2 separate regions of the Homo sapiens genome follow, and region 2 is linked to region 1. The links come from fine-mapping of genetic effects on gene expression. Tissue or cell type: whole blood. Region 1 holds a variant in brackets; the other region holds the start of a gene. All regions are shown on one strand. Distances are from middle to middle.

Region 1 (8,263 bases):
CATAATATTCATGCTTTAGAAAAATAAGGGAAATACACACACATACACACACACACACATAAATAGGTATATATGTAGCTGAATGTGCAAATCTGCACCCAGTCATGGTTGCCTCTGGAGAGGGCAGCTGAAGGACAGACACACTTTTCACTGTATTTACCCATTTGTGCTGCCTGAATTTTACCATGTAAAATTCTTACATTTAAAAAAATTAATTAAAAACTTAAAAAGAAAGTAGGTAGATACTTAAAATGGGACCTCAACCTCTCAGGTTGTTAATTTCAGATAATACTGAAAAAGTACTGGCCATGCACGGTGAATCACGTCTGTAATTCCAGCACATTGGGAGGCCGAGGCAGATGGATCACCTGAGGCCAGGAGTTCAAGACCAGCCTGGCCAACATGGCGAAACCCTGTCTCTAGTAAAAATACAAAAATTAGTTGGGTGTGGTGGTGTGTGCCTGTAATCCCAGCTACTCTGGAGGCTGAGGCAGGAGAATCGCTTGAACCTGGGAGGCAGAGGTTGCAGTGAGCCAAGATTGCACCATTACATTCCAGCCTGGGTGACAGAGCAAGACCCTGTCCTGGCGGGGGGAGGGGAGGGAAAAGGACTATGCAGCATAAATTTTTCTTGAAGATTTTTGGTTTCATCTTGACACATAATCTGAGATCTAGACGCCTTGGTAGATGAGCACTGTATCTTTAACAAAATATTCTAGAAACAACAAGTCTTTCTTCCTTTTATAACTCAGAAGACGGTGGTGTGATCAAGAGAGTGGGGAGCCCTGCCCCGCCTACCTACTCACGGTCCCTTCCAGCCCTCTGCAGCAGCCTCCGGTGCTGCAGCTCCACTAATGGGACACGAAAGCATCGCCTAACATTTTATGGAACAAAAAGGATGGATCGCATCCTAGGAACCACACAGGACCTAACCCCCCATGGGACAATCTGCTCTTCCCAACCGTTGTCTCCTGGCAGCTCATATCCCATCTCCTCTTTTCTCCCATGAGGCCTGGCACTTTGCTGCCAACCTTAGCAACTCCTTTAGTGCCCACCACATCTGCTAACGCCCCCCTCCCCAGCCATGCGAAAGGAAGGTGTGAGCCCTGCAGTGACCATCTACTGCTGAGCTTTCCTGGGATCGTTTCAGCCCTCGAGGTAGCAGTCTGAGCAGGGCGGGGACTGCCCTGGCACACTAGTGGTTGCAAATGCAACCACATCTCACCCTCTGCTAAGACTCACATTTTCTTCCAGATTTTTACGTATTTGAAATCAGGATTATCCTACAACTTCTTTTGTACAGGTTGTGATTGTAATAGTGCTAGCATTGCCTATTGGTGACATAGGCACCTTCCAAACACAGCACTGAACCCTGCGCAGTGGGTGTCAGAGGCCAGGAGAAACATTCAGCCATCATTGTAACTCCTAGGAACCAAAGAGTTTAAGGTTTTGGGCAAACCAAATAGAGTTAGCACATTCCTAAAGCAGGTGTCAAAAGTAGGCGAGATTGGCGTAACTATAAAGCTGGTTTACAGTGCCAGTGACTTTTAGGTTTTATGAATTCTTTTAAGGAGTGCTCTGACATAAAACTCATACTGGCACAGAGAACAACACTGGGTGGAAAAACCAGAGACACCAACCACTGAGTCAAAAAGTGATTCAGAAAAGCAAAACCCGAAGTTTCAGGAAAACAAACAAACATACATTTCTAGATCCGTTTCTACAGATGCGCAAGTGATAACATCTGCATCTAGCAAAGTCTCAAAGAGCTCCTCAATGGGATACAAAGTAAAAAGTCCAAACAACAAGAAAGCGTTCTGTTTCTTTTTTCTTTTGTTTTTTTCAGAGATAGGGTCTGGCTCTGTTGCCCAGGGTGGAGTGCAATGCTCTGATCATAGTCACTTCAGCCTCTGCCTCCTGGGCTGAAGTTATCCTCCCACCTCAGCCTCCCAACTAGCTGGGACTACAGGCTCACACCATGACACCCAGCCAATTTTTGTAGAGACAGGGTCTCCCTGTGTTGCCCAGGCTGGTCTTGAACTCCTGGACTCAAGCGATCCTCCTCCCTCAGCCTCTCAAAGTGCTGGGATTACAGGCATCAGCCACTGCACTTGGCCATTGTGTCTATTTAAATGCAAGTTTTCTTCCTTTCTTAGAACATAAAAATAATAGTGTGTATTACAAATAACAGCATATTTTAATAACATATTTTTAATGATACATTTTCTAGGTGCCTTGAATATTAAAAAATTGGGAAAGTACAACCTTGGAGGCAGCTACTTGTTCTGGTTCATTCTTTCATACTACAACTTAAATTACAAATTATATTTAAACTTCTTACAGCAATGTAGGTACAGAAGAATTGTACTTACAGCGTAAAGAAAGAACTGGGCAAAATAATTTTTAAATTTTTGACCTTTTAACAAAAGAGAAAAGCTTTTCTTAAGGACTTCAGACAAATGGATCAACAGACAAGGTATCACATATACTCCCAAAATAAGGCAGAGTTATCTCCCGAAACTATCCCCTTAGGGATGCTCACCTTATATTTGAAACATTACACTCTTTCAGGATATACTAAATGCTGTCGGTAACCTGAAAAGAATACAAGTTATTGTTCTGTGGAAACATTATTAGCCTCAAACAACCTTAAGCAATGCTAATATTGTGGCTGGTAGGATAAGTTGTAAAGGAGGCACATTAACAGTCACGGTCTCTAGGATTATAAAGCTACAGTTACAAGTATTTGGTGTCACTGGAAAGAAGCCTGTTAAAAATCGAAAGCAATGCTCTGTGGATTCTGAAAAGCAGCTGCCCTAGTGCTACCTACACACAGGCATACTTGTGGCTTGGGATAAATGTCCACCAACAGCATCATACATAGACCCCGAAACTGCTGCATCCCAAACAACTTAGAAAGAAAAAAGATCATCTGCTCTTAACCTATTAGGGGATGCCAAAGGGGGCACCAAGATCAAATACGAAGTCGGAGTGACATGCCTGAAATGCGAATGTGAAGAGGGAAAGCCCACATGCTGGTTAATAGATTAACAAATCTGAAACACCTGCAACTAATAGTACAGGTGTCTATTTTATCCTCTCATCTACAATCCTAAACTTTATATATGTAAGTTGGCTAAAAAAAAGTTTTCTGGGATCTTCACATTGGAAGGTAAGGGGTGGCCTGTTTAGCTACCTTATAGACAAACATACTAAAGCTATAAAAACAGTGCCATGAAATAATTTTTTTTAAAGTGACTACCCTAAAAAAAAATCATTAAAAAACAAGATTCCTTTCTCACCGGTGATTTTTGGAAGCAATTCACTGATTTAGAGGCAGTTATCATCCGGTTATGTGAGATCTAGGATTTATTCACTCACGGCTCTTGTATTAGAATGTTAAGATTCTCCAGCAAAAAATGAAGTTTATATTCTTCAAACCTTTTAGAAAAATAAAACTTTCAACTGATCCTGTTGCCTCAGCCTCCCAAAAGTGCTGGGATTACAAGTATGAGTCATTGCACCCAGCCACAAAAATAAAACTTTTCAACAAATGTAAACCATACTGAGGTCCATGAATATGTGCCAAGAGGAAGGTGTTGATGGTCGAGAATTTCATCACAAATTAATCCAACTCGTTCCGAAGATAAATTTGACCACATAAAATGAAGAGGCAAGTAGGTGTTTACGCCCTGTGACCCAGTAATTGTACTTCTAGGTTTCAGCAATTAAATAGAATGACATCATTATGATACTCCATTCAACGAGTTATGCAGCTATCTTTAAATGGCAAATGTTAAAACTACATGTAAGTTCTTTGTAACGCATAGAGGACTGGAGAATATTTTAAAACAGCTACCATGTGACATGGCAAAAATTGAAAGTGAGTCTTTTCCAAAACTTTTGACAATATTGTCTTAGCACTACTTTTATAGTAAAAGAAAAGAAAAAGGTTTCACCTTCCACTCCTAGATTGTATAAGCACAGGAGAAAATAAAAGGTATACACTAGTTTTTTTGTGTGTTGTTGTTTGAGATGGTCTCGCTCTGTGGCTCAGGCTGGAGTATGGTGGCGCAAGCATAGCTCATTGCAGCCTCAAACTCCTGGCTACAAGTGATCCCTCAGCTTCAGCCACGTGAGTAGCAGCTACAGGTGTGCATCACCACATCTGGCTTAAATTATTTTTGTAGAGATGAGAGTCTTGCTATGTTGTCCAGGCTGGTCTTGAACTCCTGGCTTTAAGCAATCCTCCTGCCTCAGCCTCCTAAAGTACTGATTACAGGTGTGAGCCACTGCACTGGGTCCCACACTACACTGCTAACATGTTATTGATTGGGTTTGGAGGGGAAGACAACTTTATTATATATCTTTTAAATTGTCTGAACTCTTAATAAACATTTTTTTAAAATGACAGAATTTAAAGCATTTTCTGAACACCCTTACCATAAAATACAATCACAAATTGGTGATTTGGCCTATGTGAATTAAAAAATACTAAATATCTCCCACCTACCATAGTAAGTGTCCAAAGCACTGCAGTAGCTTTCACTAATCCAGTCTGTTCTGGACTCCAGGCCATCTATCTTGCTGGCAGACTTCGGGATCGCTGTTTGTGTAGCAACACAAGGCACATCCCAGCAACGCCACACACAAACATGTGAGCAGAAAACTAATAACCACCGGTAGCCTGTGTAAAACATCAGAACAAAGCCAATCTTTGTATTCTTTCTTTTTTATTTATAAATAAACTATTTTTGTGGTTAAACCCACTTTTCCTTCAAATAGCTTTTTGGGTTATTTCCAAATTAATCATAAAAAACCCTTTCTCCCAACAGAACGGAAAGCATTTTACAGGAAAACATTGATGGGCTCCGGGATCCCAAGATGTGCACCAGATACTGAGTGTTCAGACAGAAGGGACAACTCTAATTCTAGTCTTGGAGTACAAAGATGTCAGTGAATAAGAATCATCCAAAGAAGCTGAAGCATTCATTATTTTTTCACTCTTATTTGAGATCTCCTGGAGGTGTGTTTACAGATTGGGAAAGATTCAAGGAACCTGTTTGGAACAAACCCCTCCAAATGATC[C/T]GAATTAAAGGTCATTCTAGGAGCCTGGTAGAAATGCTGGAAGGTTAGGGTCTAGGAGACAAAGGTCACTCGAGTTGCTGCTTCTTATCTTATGAAAGGGAAGAATTGCTTGTTCCTTTAAGATAACTGAGAATAAATTAATCAAACTTAAGAACTGTTTTTTAAACTATAAACAGTAAGCAATCATTTTAAAACTCAATTATCTACCCAAATGTTCACAGCAGCATTATTCATAATAGCTTAAAAAGTGCAAAAAACCTAAATGTCCCTCAATGGATGAATGGATAGAGAAAATAAGAGGATTACTCATACAATGGAATATTACTTAGCAATAAAAAATGAAGTAGTGATACATGCTAAAACATGGATGAACCTTGAAAATGGACTGCTTAATTAAAGAAGCCACTAAAAGACAACCACATTCCACTTACATAAAATGCTCAGAACAGACAAACCCAGGGACAGAAGAAGTACATTAGTGGTTGCCGAGGGTGGGAAGGGCTTATATAATATGATTTCTTTGTGGGGTGATGAAATGGCCTAAAATTAGATTATAGTGATGGTTGCAAAACTTTTTAATACATTGAAAACCACAGAACTATAAATGAGTGAATTTTATGGTATGTAAACTATATCTCAAACTTTCAAAAAAAGAATTCATTACTAACTTTCTGATTTTAAAAAATAAAATCTTCCTGCCTCTCAAGAGCAGCCCAAAAGAAAAATAACAAAAAAATAAAATCTACAAACATAAACCTTATTAAGTGGAGGAAAAAGCTACAGTAATGTAACTGTTAAACAATTCAATTACCTAAAAGTTCTCCAGTTAATAGTCAAATAGATTTTAAATCCAGTTATGCCTTCAAAAAAATCCACGCTTTGACCTAACAGTTCAAAACTCCAAATGCATAACATTTTGTTATTAAGCATGCAACATAAATAAACGCCTTTTAATCCTTGATAGCTGTTATCAAATATATCCATGATTAATCTGTGGAACTGGAAGTTTCACTTCCTAGTGATTTTACATGCAGTACATTCCGAGGTCGCTGGAAAAAAGTTAACCTGTACGTGTCTATACAGTATTGCACCAGAAATATTTTTTTAAATGACCGGATTGAAAGCATTTTCTGAACACACTCATTCCCTTACCATAAAATACAATCAGAAATTGATTTGGCCTAACTTCAACTTAAAAAGTTAACCTGTATGTATCTATACGGTAATTGCATCAGAGGGTTTAGAGTAGCCCTTCTGAAAGCTCAACCCAGGAATATCTTAAAAAAAAAAGATGCAACAAGAAAGTGCTCTTTAGAAAACTGCATTGGTCTAAACTGGTCTGACTAGTGGGCCTCAGCTGGATTCAAATAACCAGTGGCACCTGGCACTTAATGAGTGAATCTAAAGGGATGTAGCCCAGAAACCTGTGTATTAGACAATCTCCCTAGATGCTGATGTTGCCAGGTCAGGGAATTATGTTCCTGGGAATTACATTTAGCTCACTAATAGGAGGGCAATCAAAATAAGAGCAGGGCTACCCTTCGCTGGTTACATCATCTTTGAATTCTTAATTTCCCACAGATCTAGCATCTTACAGAAAAACCAGAAATTATAATTTTTGAAGCAGTGTCAAAATATCTTGAATGTGATAGACATGGGATGAATACACCAAACATGTTTTACTTTCGCTGGGATAGTAAAGAATACTTATAAATGAGGAGTACCTCTTTGAAAGTCCTTAAAATGTAATCTTTGGTCTTTAGTCAAGAGAATAATCGAGTCTTAAGAGGAATATTTAAATTGAATTTAATTAAACACAAATGTCACATACTCCCAGCTTCCCAGAAATAGTCACTTCATCCTAATTAAGGAAATGGAAACTAATGATGACTTAAGCCTTATTCTGTGGAATGTGTTTAGACAAGTTCAGGCAAACAGCAAAAACTGAAAAGTCCCACCACCATACCTACAACATTCTGAAAATGCTTAAATGTTAACTCCATTCTTTGTCTAGCAGTTCAATATGAGCTGCCAAAATTTAGTCCAATGAGTCAGTTCCAAATAATGTAGGCTCCTTGGAGTCTATAACCTTGGAGTTGTGACAGTTCTCCCTTGACAGTGGACCAGGACACAGGAGCTCCTCTTCCAGATTCTTTCAGTTGGCTTGGGCAACTCTGCTTTCAGAACCATGGAAGTTCAACATGGCAGTCACCAACTCTGGAAGATCAAAGTCGTGTTTCCACCCCCAGTCCTTCCGAGCATTGCTGTCATCAAAGTTCATCGGCCAACCATCCGCTAGGAAAAGATACGCAAGACTAGCTTAAGTTATTCAGGTTGTGGATTTGCAAAAAGGTCTTGACCATTGTATATAAAGGTCTACCGTACAAGGTACAAAACAGGAAATTCCTTCGAGTAAAGCAGAACCGCCATTATGCACAGTCACCCTCCTAGGGCCGAAGACTATTAACCCATCTTTCGTCAGGCACTGTGAATTTTCACACATTATCAAAATCTCACACAACTTCATAAGAAGTTTTATACTCAAAGAGGTGCTTCCATCCACAAATTGGCAAAGTTACAGTATTTGAAAACCTGGGGCTGTTTTCATACTACCTCTGTTGCTTCTATTTTTCCTTGCTTTATGTTTAAACTGTAAAAATGATGAAAGGCTAACAAGCTGTTTATTTGGAATGGAATGATTTCACCCACTTTAGATATCATTCCCCAAAATCAAAGCATCTGCTAGCTTGGGCTCAACAATTTCTTGGGCTAGGCTCCTTCTCCAAAAGGTGTCTGGACCCTTGGGAAGGATCTATGCTCTCTTCAACCTTCCAAGGTTTACATTCTCCAGGGACTCACAGTAAAGGCCTTTGCCACCGGGTACGAACCTATGGCCTGGCGAACGGCATCCACGTTGTATGTGATCTGGAATTCCGGCACGTGCTTGAGGACCTCCTGGGCCAGCTCCTCGGGTGTGAAGCTCATGGCGCTGACATTGTAGGTCCTCATGGAAAGGGACTCAGCTGGGGCCTCCATGACCTCCAGGGTGGCTCTGAGGCAGTCGTCAATGTACATCATGGGCAGTCTCGTGCAGGCTTCCAGGTTGCACTCGAATTTGCCATGCTTTGTGGCATCATGGAAAATCTGGACTGCATAGTCTGAAAGGGAATCCCGT
Region 2 (8,000 bases), 84 kb after region 1:
ATTCCGGTCTGTAGTCAGATGTCACCTGCCTTCTCTGAAATCCTTTCTAAGGAAACTGCCTCCCAGTGCTCTTTATCCTCTCATCTTCCGTTACTTTCCTTCCTGGCCCTTATTACCTGACATCATTATATATATATTATATATATATAAATATATTATATATTTATGTATATATATTATATATACATATTATAATATATATTATATGCTATATTATACTATATTATAATATATAATTATTATAATATAATTATTATTATTATATATTATAATTATTAATATATTATATATAATAATTACATGTATTAGGTGAATAGGTGAATAAATAATTATTCACCTATTCGCTGAATAATTAGGTGAATATTTAGGTGAATAATTATTTAATATAATTAGGTGAATAATTATATATATTATATAGGTGAAATATAATATATATTATATAATACGTATTATATAATATATATTATATATCATACGTATTATATACTATGTATTATATGTAATATATATTATATAATACATATATAATACATAGTATATAATACGTATGATATATAACACATATTATATAATATATAATACATATTATGTTATATATAATACGTATTATATATGTTATATATTATAATATAATATATAACATATATAATAAAATATATAATGTTATATATTATATATTATATGTATTATATAATATGTATTATATATAATATATAATAAATATATAATAAATAAATAATAAATATATAAGAAAATAATATATAATATATAATATATATTATAATATATATAATATATAATAAACATAATAAATATAAATATATCTAATAAATATATATATTTATTTCTGGACTTGCTTGATTGTCCATCTCCCTGGCCAGTACCTAAGCATCTTGTCTTAGTCACCACTGCAGCCGCACAGCTCAGACAATGCACGTGGAAAACAGGTGGATGTAAAGATTTCTTGAAAGCAGCAATTTAACAAACTCTGATCTGATGCCTCCCCTATGCTCTTTCACTACACCACGCTGCTTCCCAGGAAAAGGATAAATGTGTGTACAGTTCGTCATTCTCTCCTAACAGATTCAAAGGTCCATGGCTCATCTGCTTCTTCTTCATGTACTACAAAGCCCAGCACCTTGTAAATGCAAGGTAAAAAGGAGGAAACAAATGAGCGCAAAGTAACCACCATAAAAGGTAAATAAGAAAGGAAAGGTAGTTGATGGTCATGGAGAAACTACTCAGTTGTATTCAACGGCATCTGACCATTCAGCGGTCAATCCTTCTTTTGTTTCCTACGCGTCTATATGCCCAAGCCACAGTTAGACGTTTCGAAGGAGATAAAAATGAATTCCAGTTGTGGAATTAACAGAAGAATTTGTGAAGGAGGTAGCGGTCGAAATGGTTAAACTGAATACTCATAGACAGGTAACAGGCTCATTGCCTGTGAACTCCTGAAAGACAAGAACTGTAACATATTTTATTTACCTTGGTGTCTTAAATGCCTAACAAAACGTCCAGAACATAAAGGCATTTGGCAAATGTTAAACAAACTTGGGAGAGGCAAGGCATTCCAGCAGAAGGAAGAAGTCAATAAAATACACAGATGACAGAATACAGGACATATACCAGCACCAGTAAATAGTGAGGACTGGCTGGTAAAAAGCGTTCATGAAAGCAAGTGCAAGAAAGGCTCGTTAAAAGAAATGGCAAGAAATAAAGTGAGAAAGTAGGATAGGGCCGAGACACAGAATGCCATGAATGACTGAGGGGTTTAGATTTTCAATGAGAGACCACTGAAGACTTTTTTTTTTTTTTTTTTTTTTTTTGAGATGGAGTTTTGCTCTTGTTGCAAAGGAAGGAGTGCAGTGGCCCGATCTCGGCTCACTGCAACCTCTGCTTCCAAGGTTCAAGCGATTTTTCCGCCTCAGCCTCCTGAGTAACTGGGATTACAGGCACCTGCCACTATGCCCGGTTAATTTTTTGTATTTTTAGTAGAGACGGGCTTTCATCATGTTGGTCAGGCTGGTCTCAAACTCCTAACCTCAGGTGATCCGCTCACCTTGGCCTCCCAAAGTGCTGGGATTACAGGCGTGAGCCACCGTGCCGGGCCCACTGAAGACTTTATACAGCAAAAGGTGGCTTGAGGAGACTAATAAGAGCCCCCTGCTCATATCAATCAATCAATCTACCATGGCTTCACCCAAACTGCCTGCAATTCTACCATTAGAAATTTTTATTTTAGGCCAGGCGCAGTGGCTCACGCCTGTAATCCCAGAACTGTGGGAGGCCTAGGCGGGAGGATTGCGAGGTCAGGAGTTCAAGACCAGCCTGGTCAATATGGTGAAACCCCATCTCTACTAAAAAATACAAAAATTAGCCGGGTGTGGTGGCGCGTGCCTGTAATCCCAGCTACTCGGGAGGCTGAGACAGAAGAATCGCTAGAACCTGGGAGGTGGAGGTTACAGTGAGCCGAGATTGGCCACCGCACTCCAGCCTGGGCAATACAGTGAGATTTCGTCTCCAAAAAAAAAAAAAAAAAAAAAAGAAAGAAAGAAAGAGATTATTATTTTAAGGCATATCCTCTGTACGAATCTTCCTAATATCCAAATTATCCTGTGAGGCAATAGAAAATGTTGTCGTCATTCATTTATACTTCTGTGTAAAACGGATAATCAGTTTGCCCTCTCCTGGCTAGCGAGTAGCCACTAAGGAGATGGGAATTTTGAATGCAGATGAAAGTTTAACTTTTTGACTTCGAGGCACTGCCTTGGAAAGATAAAGTCTGGAGTACAAAAAGAAAAAAGAGGTTAACTGGTCCATGCCTTTCCTTGAGAGCCAACCCTGTTCTTTCAGCAAGCAGAATTGAGTAAAGATGAAGAGAAGACATCAGAATCTCCCTTAGTGAGAATTAAATTTTGATGACCCAGAAGGTAAGAAATAATATGATACACTGAACATTTTTCAGAAATTAAAAAAATGGTTCTGTAGCATGTAGACACTCATAACTTTATAATCTGTTTAGTTTTCCTCAGAAATGGTAAAGACTTTACCTAAATCACATCCAATCACTTCATGAACGGTGACTGACAATACCAATTCAAGGAATACGATGGGGCAAGAAGAAGAAGAAATTTATAAAGACAATGCCGAAAATCCACCCAAATGGTGTTACGAACCAGAAATGATCATCAGGATGGTACCAGCCACACGATAACCCTGAGAACTCCATCCAGGTTTAATGGAAACCGGGTCCTCCATCTGGACGGGTTTCAGCTTGGTAAATCCTGATTCTAGGCCACAGAGGGCTCATCTTGCCGGCTAGCTGGGCGGCAGGCTGCGCGGAAAACGCCAGGAAGTATTTCCCGGGGCGCCCACAAGGGACCCCCGGCTCCCTGCGGAGCTGGGGTGGGGCGGGCACTCACCGCTTGTCGATGGCGTCGATGTTTGAATGGAGGAGCCACAGCTCCTCCGTATTGTCCTGCCGGGAGGACAGGATCAAGTGGTGGCCCGTCAGGCACAGGGTGCCCTCGACAGCCGGGTAGAAAGGCCGGTGCAGCACCACATTGTCCACCCGCGGGGTCTTAATCAGCTCCGCAAACTCCATGCTCCCCCGCGGCCGGAGCCAGGGAACCGAGCCCGGTAGGTGCGAGGCGGTTACCCCGCCGCAGGGAAGTAGCGGAAACACCCGGCGCGGGGCTGGCCCGTGGGGCGGGGCGGGCCGGGCGGTGAGGCTGGGCCCGCCCCAGGCTGGGTGGGCGCGGCGAGGCCTACAGCCGCCGGCACCGGCCGCGGGGAGACAGGGGCTGGGGCTGGACGAGGCCCAAGCGCCTCTCCCGCACCGCGCGGTTCACCAGGCCTAGGACTCGGCCACAGAGAACCCCTCTCCACAGGCCCAAGGACCGCCGCTGCCGTTGGGCTCCGGGTCCCGCGTTGGCAAGCGGAGGGCAGTAGGAGAAAGCCGCCTCAGAATCCGCTTCCACGCCCTGGCCGCTAGGGACTCCTAGCGGAAGTGGCTACTCGCTGCTGGAGCCCACAACAACTCCGGGCGGAAGCAGCAGGTCTCGAAACTCGGAAGACGCGGAAGTCGCAGCCGGAAGTTGGTCCTCGCTAGGTCCTCTGGAAATGCCTCCGGAAACACAGCCAGACCAGAAGATGTGTGTTCCTACGAGAAAAAAAGCTTGTCTTTGCCTTCACGCCCTCCCGCTGCCTTTCTTAACCACCTACAAATATTCCTTATCAGAAGAGGTCCGGGAAGAGGGAGGAGGTCCCTGTCTTGCCTTCCTCCGCTTGAGTAGTATCCCCTCCAGAAGCTCTTCAGAGCGTGGGGCTGCTGTAAATTGTGATAATTGTTATGCATTAGCCCTGAAGACATGGCAAGTAGGGGATGGAGGCGGTGACTGTGACCTTACGGAATCCTCCAGGGGTCAGGGAGGGACACAGGGCCACTCCACAGGCTCTCCGAGAGCGCCGCGCCACGAGGTGTAACCTGGAGCAAGAAAGAGGAAAAACAGGAATACCTGTGAGAGGAACCCAAGTACATGCAGTGCACAGAAGAGCAAGTCACTTGACTTGCTGGCGGCCACCCCGTTAATCTGCAGCAGAGCCTGGACTTCAGTCTGCATCTGTGAAACCCAGCGCATGGGTGCGTTGGTCACCACCGCACAGCCTCCCCGTCAGACACCCACGTTTCGCCAAAAATTTATTCAAATAATTACTCCTTTGCTTGTTCCTTTCCCACCGCCCACTTCTGACATTTTTATTCAAAAGTAGGAAATAGAAGAGAAATATGTTTGAGTGCTGGTCTGCTGTGACTTCATTGACCTTTTAAATCCTCACCATCTAGTACCTAAGCACAGCGAGTTGGACAAACTCTCACAGTATTCACAAAGTAAATTGCCACAACCTCATCAGCTCATCCAACACTTGTCCATGCTTTTGATTTTGTCCTTCTTAAAATGTACCCTTCTTAAAATAAACCACTTTATAGACTTGTTTTAAGTGAGATACGTAAATGCCTACCAACTTTCCTTGGTGTCTTTGTTGCATAGTTACTGTAGACTGAATAATAGTTGCCATTTTTTATATTTTTGCAGTTTAATTGCTTTCGTCCAAATAGATGGAATCACTTCCTTTGTAATATATGAAGTGTTTTAATTCATTTTTATAACTAGCATTCCTGACAGCACAGGTATCCACCCCCTGAAGTTCCCATTCTATAGAACAAAATAGCAAATAAGTATTTTTTTTTTGTTCCATAATGGACACCCAGTATACACCCAGTATACACAGGGACACCGCATACAGGGAATCAGCTTTATTTTACAACAGAGCTTCACTTTACCCCTCTGGCAATTAATAGATTCTGGGTATTTATTAAGAACTTTAAATTTAATGCAAAGACTGTTAAATACCACCAGCTCAGCTCTGGCAAAGGACTGTTGGCTTTGTTTATCTCCTATCTTCATCCAGATACACTGCCATCCCTATCCCAGCCCGATCTTGGGTCCTTGAAAAAAATGACCTATCATTCCAACTACCAGGGAGGAACTCCCTTTGAATTAATGAATCTGGATGACTTATAAGACTTCAAAAGTATGGAAATGACAAAGGTTAAAATGACAGGATGAGCAGTAAACCCTCTCCAGTCCAATCAGAGCAACCTTTTTGAGGGTGCATTCCCACAGAAACCCATTAGGGGCCCAACATCAACATACACAGAGCTAAAATTCCAGATGCCACTTTGTATTGAAAGAAGCCAAAATTCTGTTCAGGTCGTGGGAACTTGAAGTCTTCAATGCAACCACACCCCAGAAATTAACCCTCACACAATCATGTAAGCTATGCAATTAACCAAACTGCATCGTTTAGAAAACCTGTATGCTTTTCATGGAAACCATCCCTAGTTAAGGGCACTTTAAAGGATGCACAGTCTAAGTACTGTGAAGGTGGGCCCACTAGCTGGGTTGACATTTTCGCTTGGCCACTTTAGTAGGAAACTTAACCACTTGGGAAAGTGAAAACAACAAGCTAACCCACATGTTCACCATGGAAAACAATTTTTGTCTTGAAAAACAAGGAACCTTTTCCCTGTGCAGCACCAGTTCCTACTGTGTTTACCAGCCAATTGGACTGGAACCTGTACACTTGGTTTTTAGCCTCCGAAATCAATATAGCTCCCGGCCGGGCGCAGTTTCTCACGCCTATAATCCCAGCACTTTGGGAGGCCGAGGCAGGCGGATCACCTGAGGTCAGGAGTTCGAGACCAGCCTGGCCAACATGCTGAAACCCTGTTTCTACTAAAAATACAAAAAATTAGCCGGGTATGGTGGCGCACACCTGTAATCCCAGCTACTCTGGAGACTGAGACAGGAGAATCACTTGAACCCTGGAGACAGAGGTTGCAGTGAGCCAAGACTGAGCCACTGTGCTCCAGCCTGGGTGACAGAGGGAGACTGTCTCAAAACAAACAAACTATATATATATGTGTATATATATATATATATTTAGAGAGAGAGAGGGAGAGCTCTCAACAACCAATCCCTCATTATACCTTTAACTGCAACCGCCAGACACAAATGAGCAATCCAACTCAAACGCCTTTTTGTTGGGCTAGGAATAACAGTGAGAGCAGGAACGGGAGTTACCGGGCTTGCAACTTCCCTATACTGTTACCAGCACTTTCCAAGGATTTTGTGGAAAGCTTGGATGACATTGCCCAAAGTATCGTCACAACACAAACTCAAACAGACTCCTTGGCAGCAGTTGCTTTACAAAATAGAAGGGGACTGGATCTCCTAACTGCTGGAAAAGGTGGCTTATGTCTTTTTCTAGAGGAAGAATGCTGTTTTTATGTCAACCAATTAGAATTAGTAAGGGATGCCACCCAGAAATTAGCTGACCAGGCTTCTAAGATACGACAACAGCTGTCCAAGTCGTGGTCCTCCTGTTCAAAAATGCTAATTAGGGGTTCATGAGTCCTTCCTCTGACTGGCTCGTTGTTAATTATACTTGCCTTGGTTTTTGGACCATATTTATTAAATACATTAACCAAATTAATTTCCTCTCGCCTAGAGACCATCAAGCTTCAGATGATCATGCAACAAGGTTTCCAGCCAGTTCAGGTGAAGACACCACTACTGGCCATCAAGAAGCTACCCTGTATCCACTAGACAGAGCAGAGTGAGAGTTCTGTGATCCCAAATAGGTAGGCACCGCACCCCAAGTCAGCATGAAGCAGTTACAGAAGAAAGACCATTGGTCCCTCTGCCTCCCATAAAGATTTATGGGGATCATGTCTCACAGCGGGAAAATGAGACAGGAGAATAGGGTCTAGAGGCAGGGAACCTAAGGCCAATTCTCACTGACTTCCTAGAACTGAATCAGAGGGGAAACCCCACCTCTTCACACGAATGTAACGAAAGGATCAGAGGCTACTCCCTTTGCACTGCACTGCAAATGAAAAATGGAAAGTACCTCTGATTGGTCCCCTCCCACAACCATTCAGACTGGTTGCAGGCCAAGTCTTCATGTGTAACTTTGTAACTACCGTCACTTCAGACTCTGATTGGTCACCTCCCATGATCAGTCAGACTTGTGACGGGCCACTCCTTCATTTACATAGGGTGTAACCAAGTAACCAATGGGAAACCTCTAGAGGCTATTTAAACCCCATGCTGCACGATGGCTCACACCTGTAATCCCACCACTTTGGGAGGCTGAGGAGGGTGGATCACAAGGTTAGGAGTTCCAGACTAGCCTGGCCAACCGACATGGTGAAACCCTATCTCTACTAAAATTACAAAAATTAGCCAGGTGTGGTGTGGGCCTGTAATCCCAGCTATTGGGGAGGCTGAAGCAGGAGAATTGCTTGAACCTGGGAGGTGTAGGTTGCAGTGAGCCAAGAATGTGCCACCGCACTCCAGCCTGGGTGACAGAACAAGACTCCGCCTCAAAAAAATAAAAAAATTAAGCCCCAGAAAATTCTGTAACCAGCGCTC

Evidence for each region. PIP is the estimated chance that this variant, and not a neighbour inherited with it, causes the effect.
Region 2: MTMR9 starts here. The variant in region 1 is fine-mapped to the expression of MTMR9 in whole blood (TOPMed, PIP 0.99). The same link has a PIP of 0.9 or more in neutrophils.

Annotation. Positions count from the first base shown.
Region 1 is chr8:11,364,703-11,372,965 of GRCh38, reverse strand. It overlaps FAM167A-AS1 (FAM167A antisense RNA 1), which reads right to left and starts at 4,564. Exons shown (of 7, transcript NR_026814.1): 1 at 4,514-4,564. It also overlaps the pseudogene TDH. The variant C/T (reference allele first, on the strand shown) is at 5,089.
Region 2 is chr8:11,280,496-11,288,495 of GRCh38, reverse strand. MTMR9 (myotubularin related protein 9) reads right to left here and starts at 3,680. Exons shown (of 10, transcript NM_015458.4): 1 at 3,426-3,680. The coding sequence starts at 3,607. LINC00529 (long intergenic non-protein coding RNA 529) reads left to right here and starts at 4,465. Exons shown (of 5, transcript NR_170283.1): 1 at 4,465-4,645; 2 at 7,075-7,207. RefSeq lists silencers at 3,592-4,001, 7,494-7,543 and enhancers at 3,695-4,196, 4,472-4,531, 4,622-4,711.